Regions from separate parts of the Homo sapiens genome. Here region 1 is reported to be linked to region 2. The links are microRNA targets in miRTarBase. Many come from high-throughput screens and were not tested one by one. Region 2 holds a microRNA gene; the other region holds the end of a gene's coding sequence.

Region 1 (4,400 bases), not on the chromosome of region 2:
TTTATGAAAACATATATATTCCAAATCCTTCAAAATGAAAAGAAGCTCAAACAGTTGTGAAAATTTAGAATTCTTAGATTTTAATGGGTCTGTCTTTGTTCAGGGGCAAAGACTCAAATGAGCTTTAAGATCAATTAAAGATGTCTGGAAATGAAGAACTTCATTATACCATTAAATTCAGTTATTTTTCACTATTAGGCTTATTAAGCTTGAAGCTTTAGGAAATCTCTTGGGAAGAGTGAGTGGAAAAAACAGGAGTAAGAAAAGGAAGAAAAAGCCTTTGAGTCTAATCTACTCTACCAGGTTCCAGGAAGAATATAATTCTACAGAGAAAATTCTTCATAATCTATCATAATATATTTCAGTGTCTGATGGCTGACTCTTGTCTTGCATAAAGATATCTTCAGTGGATATTAAGTAAATATTAAAAATATATTTCAGATTCATTCTTTGAAGGATTGCATCTCATGCATCCACAAATTTTAATGTTGAGTTTTGGAAAATTGCCTCCAGAGATATCTACTGTGTTTAATCTTAGATTTTTTTTTTATTTTAATAAACCAAAGATAAACTGAACATTTAAGACATAATCAGATTTTTAGTGAATTTTTAAGTCCTCCAGAAAAGTCTATGACTTAATAAATATTAGCAAGTTTCCAAAAATATAACAAATGTTTATAAATACGTGTGCACTGCAGTGCAATGGTGTCCCCAGAGAAATAAAATGCATAACAAAGCAAATGTTATGTTGTAGTGTATGTATGGCACATTTATAAATCATTACATACTTTAGGGCACAAAAATGCTGCAGTACTAAAAGTGTTGTTCAAGTTCTCAATTCTGTTAACAATTTAAAATTTCATTAATTGTGTTTAATATCAATGAATCTCAAAAGGCTCCTGTGGCCATATTAGTTGAAAATAGACTCTATTTGCATACATTATTTAACCTAAGAGTACCCTGTGTTCCCTTACCATTTAATTAATTCTAACTAGTCAAATATTAATTCTCATCTCACAAATCATTACACAGGAAGATATCAATTATTCAAGTAAAATACAAGCCCTACAATCTTTAAAAATTAGCTTTTTAAGTAAAAACAAAAAAGATAAGCACAAGACTTTGCAAGCATAACCACAATCATCGTCTAACACTGAGTTGCCTACAAGGAAGTTTGTCCCTTCCTATGGTAACAGCCTTGGTCCACTATAAAGTTAGTGCAAACAAGTGAGGGTATAAAAAAAATATAAACTCTGGATTTTTAAGGATTTCATTTTGTTATACTCTTTTTGGATAATTCATTCCATACGGAAATTTGTTTATTGTTCATAAATATCATAATGTTCATTTCAAAAATTGTCATCATCTTAATGGCTATCTTACACTTTTTTCTTTTGGAGGGTTGTCAGGCATCCATCCATTTTCCTTTTTAAGAAGAACGTTATGTGTATTAGGCTACTAAACCCAATTTTTACATTATTTTTAGTGATCAAAGGTTTCTTATACAAGTGACTCACAGTACTGAATTATGTCAATCTCTCATTTGAGGAAGGAAATGCAGTTCAAGTTAGCATTGAAAGTGCTTGGCTGTAGAGGACATCTAACAGAGCTGCTGTGTTTATTGGCTCCAGAACAACTTATTATAGGTTTTTCAGTTCTCTTTAGGGTAGAATATGAGATGGGGTTAGTCTTCATCAAAATGCAGTATCTAGTACTTTAACTCAAGTGCTGGAAGACAGCAAATCTTGGAAGTTTATTATAAAAAAAAAGATATTTCGGATAGATTCCTTTGTTGTCATGGGCAAAACTGTATATCCACACAGGACTGTTAGACTCCTAGCCAATAAAATCAGACTAAGTCCATAGGGATAAGGTAAGTGTAAATAAATTTCCATTGGGGAAGACAGGGCTCATGGCCCGTGTATCAAGGTCTCAAGCTGAGCACTGGAGAACTCCAGGGAACACTGTTCATACAGGCTATGGTGCGAAGGAATTCCCCTGTAGGTATGCCATACTTCAGTCTCTTAAGAAGCTGATTAGCATGAAAGACTGGAAGCTGATTATGGACAATTCAGTTTGAATTATTCCTTTCTATTTTGCTTTGAACTTTCCTCATACACTTAAGACATGAGTAAATCACATTGAAAAACATTTGCCAATTGAATATTTTAAAGATTCAAGAGGTAGCATGATATTGTGCAATGAACACTGGCCTGACAATGAGAAGATAAAAACTCCTTTCCAATGTGGCCACTTTATCACTTGAGTGTTTTCTGAGAAATCGTTTAAGTTTTCTGAGGCTCAGTTCCCTAACTCACTAAAAAGGAGAATTAGCAGCCTGGCATGGTGGCTCATGCCTGTAATCCCAACACTCTGGGAGGCCGAGGAGGGTAGATCACCTGAGGTCAGGAGTTTGAGATCAACCTGTCCAACATGGCAAAACCCCGTCTCTACTAAAAATACAAAAATTAGCTGGGCACGGTGGTGGATGCCTGTAATCCCAGCTACTCAGGAGGCTGAGGCAGGAGAACTGCTTGAACCCGGGAGGCAGAGGTTGCAGTGAACCCTAATTGCGCCATTGCACTTCAGCCTGGGTGACAAGAGTGAAACTCCGTCTCAAAAAAAAAAAAAAAAAAAAAAAAAGCTTATTTCTAAGATATCATCTATTCTCCAATTTTGTACTTTTATGAATTCTGGCAAGAAGGGTTGGAGTGATTCTGGGAAAGAACATCCTTAGGCTGCCTTGAAGGGAGAAGATAATATAGCTTTTCATTTAAAAAATGCTGATATCTACTTGCAATCAAAATCTAAGAAAACATTCAAAATGTGGTACTTTGCTTGAGGCAGAATTTCTAACTATCTTGTGAATTAATGATAAGATAAATGAAATGGCCAAACAATCCCTTCAGTTTACCAGGTAAGAGGATACAAAACTCCACACTTGTGCACAATGAAGCTATTCAGGTTTTGATGATACTTTACAGTGTCCCCTATTAACATTCAGCTTTTAAAACTAGTATTCTGATAAAGTGACATTGTATTATTAGTTTTTTATGGCAGTAGTAACTTAGCACTTAATTAATCCAGTCATCTGTGACATACATAAACTTATCCTGTAAAAAAGAAAACAAAACATAAAGGCAAAGAGGAGAGAATGCTGGAATTAGTATCCATCTTGCAAAAATAAGCAAACCATAAACACACATGCATAAAACTACACACTTTAAAAAGCAATAATCTTTTAAGATTAAGGTTGTATCTGTTCACCTCTTGAAAGAGTGAAACACGAATCATTTATTCATCTAGCTGTTCTTGTCTATTCAACCACCAACTGTTGAAGTGTTTGGCAACCTTAGAATATACTTGCCAGATTATTTTTTTCCTCACATGTCCAGTGCAGGGATTACTGTACCCTTGTAGTGACACAATGCTAAACTCTCTCACAGCATTGTTCTCTCTGGGAAGCGTAGGGATAACAGGTACCTGTAAAGTGTAATCAGTGCTCTTCAGAGGATCTACATTCTATGCTGATCTAAATAAGTTATATATTACAGTAAAGTGCTACAACGACACTAGTCTCAAACAGTAGTAAGACACATTTTTCTCTGAAAAAGTCAGCAGCTATGTGAGTCACATCATGATGAGGATACTTGTCAGTCTTCGTTCGAGTGTACAACCAGCAACTGGCATGACCGTGAGCAATTTGTCTCCTCCTGTGACTTTTAAAATTATAATCTTTAGGAGCAATTATTAACAATTCCAGTTTCCCATTAAGTGTTTAAAAATCTTTTTTTAGAAGTTGCACCTGAAAGTTTCATGAGCATTTAATTTGCTGATATCCATTTTTATTTCTTCAGGCTTCTCACGTCGGTAGGTGACTGCTCTTGTGCAAACACTTTGCAGAATCAACTTATCCTTAATAGAGAAGAAATATTATTATTAACTAAGGGCCTAAATATTGTAACTAGGCAATAACATACTGTTAGCAGTTCTTTTTTAGAATTCACTGACCTTTTTTGAGGCTGACACTCTGTAATCTGATGAGGACTTAATTTTATTACTATTCCATTGTAGTATCACCTGTCTAATGATCAGGACTTTAAGCAACCCAATCAAGAATGTAACTATGAAAATGATGAAAAATATTCTCAAGTAGCTTGGGCTGGAGAAACATTCTGTAATGAAGCAAACAAATAAATGGATTAAAAATTGGAATAAGTAAATCAAAGAGTCTATCAAGTAAATAATGTTCACACTTCAATTAATAGTGCCAAAGATATTTGCAAATCTCCATTTTCAAATCGGGATTGAAATTACCTTTGATTCAAAACAAAAAGCTCTCTAATTTTTCTTGCGCGTTTACTATGAAAATATTTTCAATAGAAAACCCTCCTTTGGGA
Region 2 (4,400 bases):
ATATAATGACCATCCTCAGAAACAATGCTTATCCTACAGCCACGTGCCAGACGCTGTCTAGACACTTCACAAAGAGCACGTTTCCACTCCGCTGTTAACCCTGCTTTACAGAGGAAGAGACTGAGGCCCAGAGAGCTGATAGGTGAAGGGATTTTCCAAGGGCACACAGCTGGCAACATAAGGTAGTAATAAATGCTATTAACAATTCTCGTCTTGCAGTAGGAATAACCGAGTCGTGCCATGGAAATGTGTCTTTAAACAACATTAATTCTCACTGCTGAGGAAACCCCCTTCACCCCTTGCTTCCCAGAGGTCACCCAGAAGATAAGGTATTTGAGGGCGTAATGTGGATGTCTTCCATTCAGCCAGGAGTTCCTTTCCCTAAAGTGTGCCACACAGCCAAGATGATTTCACACCTAAAAAGGTTGACTAAATGTGGTTTATTCACTGACGAGTCTTCAAGGATGCGACTAGAAGACCACCATGTCAACTAAAACGTCAGCATCATTTCGGGGAATTCCTCCTAATGATGGCCGGGATATGAGCCAAGTGATGTAAGTCACACAGAGAGCACCTGTCATGCGGAGGTGATCCACTTCCTTACCCTGCGCAGGTGCCGGCTGGGCTTTCCCCTCGTGACGTTTCCCAAGAAGAATTGAGTACCGAAAGGAGATTGGCCATGTAATACTCATCATAAATAAAATGAACACACCATGGACAACCTCCATTCGAGTACCTGACTTGGGTGCTCGCTTCCAGCGCGTCCCAGCAGCAGGCCTGAGGACGGACGGGATACTGAGAGTCAGGAAGGTGGCAACACACCACCCACGAAATAAGCTCTGCGGTCCGGGCCGCACTCCATCCCTTACTTGCAATTAGCACCTCTTGCAGGAAGCCATTCAGGGAGGGAAGTGCCACAGCAGAGAGGTCTGCAGAGCACCATCTGTGATACATGAAGAGAGGGCAGCAGGGAAGACAGCAAGACGGTGTCTTGTCAAACATGCAGTGAGCCGATGAGGGAACTGCCGCCTCTTTCGAGGAAACTGCCATGGTAAGCAAGCAGGACGCCTGCAGGTGCACGACCCACCAAGAAGAGTGTGCACACTGTCAGCTTCGCCGTGCGTTCAGGCATTCAGACACCAGTTCTAGTTCCTAAACTCGGCACCACCCGAGGGTGCTTTAAGGCTAGATTTAATGCTTTCAAAAGAGTCCACTATGTAGGATTGGTCAAAAAATAAATCGAATGCATCATGGAAGACCTCTCCACCAGTACCACAGAGTAGCTCTGATAGGAAAAGCTCCACTTCTTCCCCAAAGGTGGCACCATCTCTAGAAACCTCCCCAAGGACGGGGCACACACAGGGTTAGGGCCAGGGCACACTGCTGGGTCGGCTATGGTCAATGGTCCCCTTCCTTACCCTGGAGAGGAGCTGACACCCTGAAGTAAGACTCCGCTCCAGGAAGCCCTCCAAGGCGGGATTTGGTACTGAAAAATAGGTCAACCGTGTATGATTCGTCACAAATAAAGCGAAGGCAACACGGATAACCTATCTTCAAGTACCACACGCTAGCGCAGACCCAATGTCAATGCCTGTTCTCCAAAGTTGGCCTCCTCCAGGAAGTCCCCCTAGGAGACAGTGAACATTGACGGTTAGCAGACGGACTGCAAGAGGGTTGAGAAGAAAGCACACGCCCTGTATTCAACCATTCCATCCCGGACCCTGCAGCCATCCAGACCTCAATGCCTTTGCCAAGGTGGGTGCATGTCTAAAGGAGCACTGCCAGGGAACCTGATGGTGGAGAGGCCAAGTGCACAGAAACTCAGCATTTGGATCAGAGCAGGGCACATTCCCTCATCTCACATTAGCATCGAGGCTGACAGTAATGATCCTTTCCTTACACAGGCCTTGTGTCCAGGAACCCTCCAAAGCTGAGTCCATGACAAAGAGACTGACTTTACAATATTGATCATACAGAAACAAACAGCATTGAATGCAAACTTTATTAGACCATGGCATGGCACTGACCTCAGAATCATGGCCTCATCCCCAAAGGTGAGCATAATTTCCAGGAAGTCTTCCTAAGGATAGATTGCATGCTTGGGGTTAATGGTACTTCATATATGGTTTTTCAAACTCTTCCATTGTTAGCAGAAAATTCACATACCTGGCCAGTGGTGCTGACTCCCACGACCATCTCAGAAGTGGCATTGCCATAAGGCATCCTGCCAGGGTGGAAGGTGACACTGAGGAGGGGGCATCTGGGTAGGATTGTTTTAAATAGACAAATGCACAGTGCAAATGACAACAGACTGACGTGCAGACAGATGGCAGCAAGGGGCCAGATGACAGACTTTCTTCTCCTCCAGTACACAATGAAATGAACAAAACAGATTATTTCACCAAAGAAAAAACCAACACCTGGAGTAGAAAAGTGCTCATAAAATGAATAAATCCTTGAAACAAAGGAACGATTAAATCTACTCATCAAGAAGGCATATTATGATTCAGAAAAACTAATGAATAAAAATAGTGACTGAGTCATAACCCGGTAAAGTCACCAACGTTCAAGACTAAAGAAAGAATCAGGAAATCTAAGCAGGAAAAAAAAAAAGTTCATCCATCCAAGGGAAAGCAGCTGTCCCCAGGCTTGTCCACAGCAATGGTTTAACACCAGAAAGCAATGGAGGCAAGTTTACAAAGTTCAGAGGGAAGAAACTGGGAGCCAAGAATGTCATGCCAAGTTCACCCATCATTCAGCTCAAAGGCTCCATCCCAGCAACAAGCACTGATAGGGAACCCTCTCCTCCACAAACATTGAGAAGTGTTGGATAAAATGCAACAGCAGGCAAAATCAATTCCCAAATAAACATACAGCTGAAAGGCAAAACCCTCAGGTGTTAATGAAAAGAATTAGTTCATGCAACCTGCCACTAAGGGATCTAAGGGATGCTGTGCTGGCTAGAGGCTCCAAGGGTCTACAGTCAAGTTCAAGTACAAGCAGGATGAAAAGACATGACCGTGCATCCAGGAGAAGTTGATCTGGGAATGGAAAGGGGAACCAGAAAATTTTATAATGGCCAGGGATAAGAGAATTTGTCATTTTTAGGGAGTGGATAGAATGAGGTCTCCTGTGAGATACCAAAGGTTCAGGACAAAGATATGGTGAGGACTTCTGCCAGCCATATGTCTGGGAATCCTTAAGCCAACAAAATGAGTTGAAAAACTGGTACCAACTGGTAAATTCCTTGGGGTACCAGGCAGAACCAAATGCAAACTCATGTGCATAGGGATTGAAACAAAACAGAAACACCTAAGTGCTCAACTGATGATAACCTCACAACACAAAGCTACAAAAACCATGAAGAAAAGCACCATCATGAGAGTCAATAGATTCAACAAAGAAAGGGGCTTGTATCCCTAAAGCTGAAAGAAATTATACAATAAATATCTTTAAAGTGACTAAAGAAATTTTAAAAACTTGAAATCATAAAGGCCAAATAGAACAGAATGAAAAAAAAATGGACAGATGGGAAAAGGTGTAAGAGCAATGGTCAGACATTCTCAGAGACGAAATACCTCACAGAACATAGTACCTCAAAGTCTTTCCAACAAGGTTTGTGAAGATCGCTAGATAAAATAGTCCAGGTAAGTAAGAGCTACATGGAGAAGCCACATTAAGACAGCTAGTGAAAGCCTCAATGCAAAAAACAGTGGACAATAGCTATAAATTTCTGAGAAAAAACAAGTAGGCTGAGACTTTTATACCTAGTTAAGCTGTCCCTTGTGCATAAAGAGATATATACTCTCAAATGCACAGGAACTCAAGGGTAGTGTCTATGAGCTATTCTCACAGAAACAATAAGATCATTTCCATTGAGAGATAAATTAAACTTAAAAACTAAAGAACGGAGAAACCTCAGTTAAAAAAAAACAAACCTTGTGGTCAGAAATGAATTCATTTAAATATAGAACTATGGCAAAACACCTGCAAGAATTATAGTTCTAGAACAAATTGCAGATATTTATAATGTAAAATTAAAATGTATAATTGAGAAAAAGCAGGAGATAGTAAGCAAAGGAAGAATAAGAATGCTGACTTCTTTATCTTTCTGAACTAGGAGTGAAATTGAAATAGTTAAAAACCATAACAATCCTAACCACTTAATTTTTACACTCTAATTTTTCTTAATTTTACAGGGATCTTTTAGGAGTTGCTACCTGTGGTGGTAAAGCGAGAAACATTTATCAATCATTTCAATCTCCTTTAGCTTGTTTTTTATGATAAATTCAAGGAAAATTATAGTTAGCATTTTTAATAAAATGATTAGGTACAGTGTGATCTCATATTTTCCCTGCGTCTGTCTTGTTTTTCTATTTGCATGTATGCTCAGACAGGTG

What was found. The annotated mature microRNA hsa-miR-154-3p reads AAUCAUACACGGUUGACCUAUU and lies in region 2 at 1,493-1,514, opposite strand. An mRNA with a match to its seed (bases 2 to 7 or 8) in the 3' UTR can be bound and repressed. Matches are read on the target gene's strand: a 7mer-m8 pairs with bases 2 to 8, a 7mer-A1 pairs with bases 2 to 7 and ends in A, and an 8mer does both.
Region 1: the mRNA of ITGB8 is a reported target of hsa-miR-154-3p. Seed matches in the 3' UTR shown: 7mer-A1 at 1,334-1,340 and 7mer-A1 at 348-354.

The regions. Positions count from the first base shown.
Region 1 is chr7:20,409,390-20,413,789 of GRCh38, reverse strand. ITGB8 (integrin subunit beta 8) reads right to left here. Exons shown (of 14, transcript NM_002214.3): 13 at 4,012-4,175; 14 at 1-3,915. The coding sequence ends at 3,793. Among named protein-coding and RNA genes, the nearest start is that of ITGB8-AS1, 80 kb to the right of the region's middle.
Region 2 is chr14:101,056,919-101,061,318 of GRCh38, reverse strand. MIR154 (microRNA 154) reads right to left here and starts at 1,564; the gene lies at 1,481-1,564. MIR496 (microRNA 496) reads right to left here and starts at 746; the gene lies at 645-746.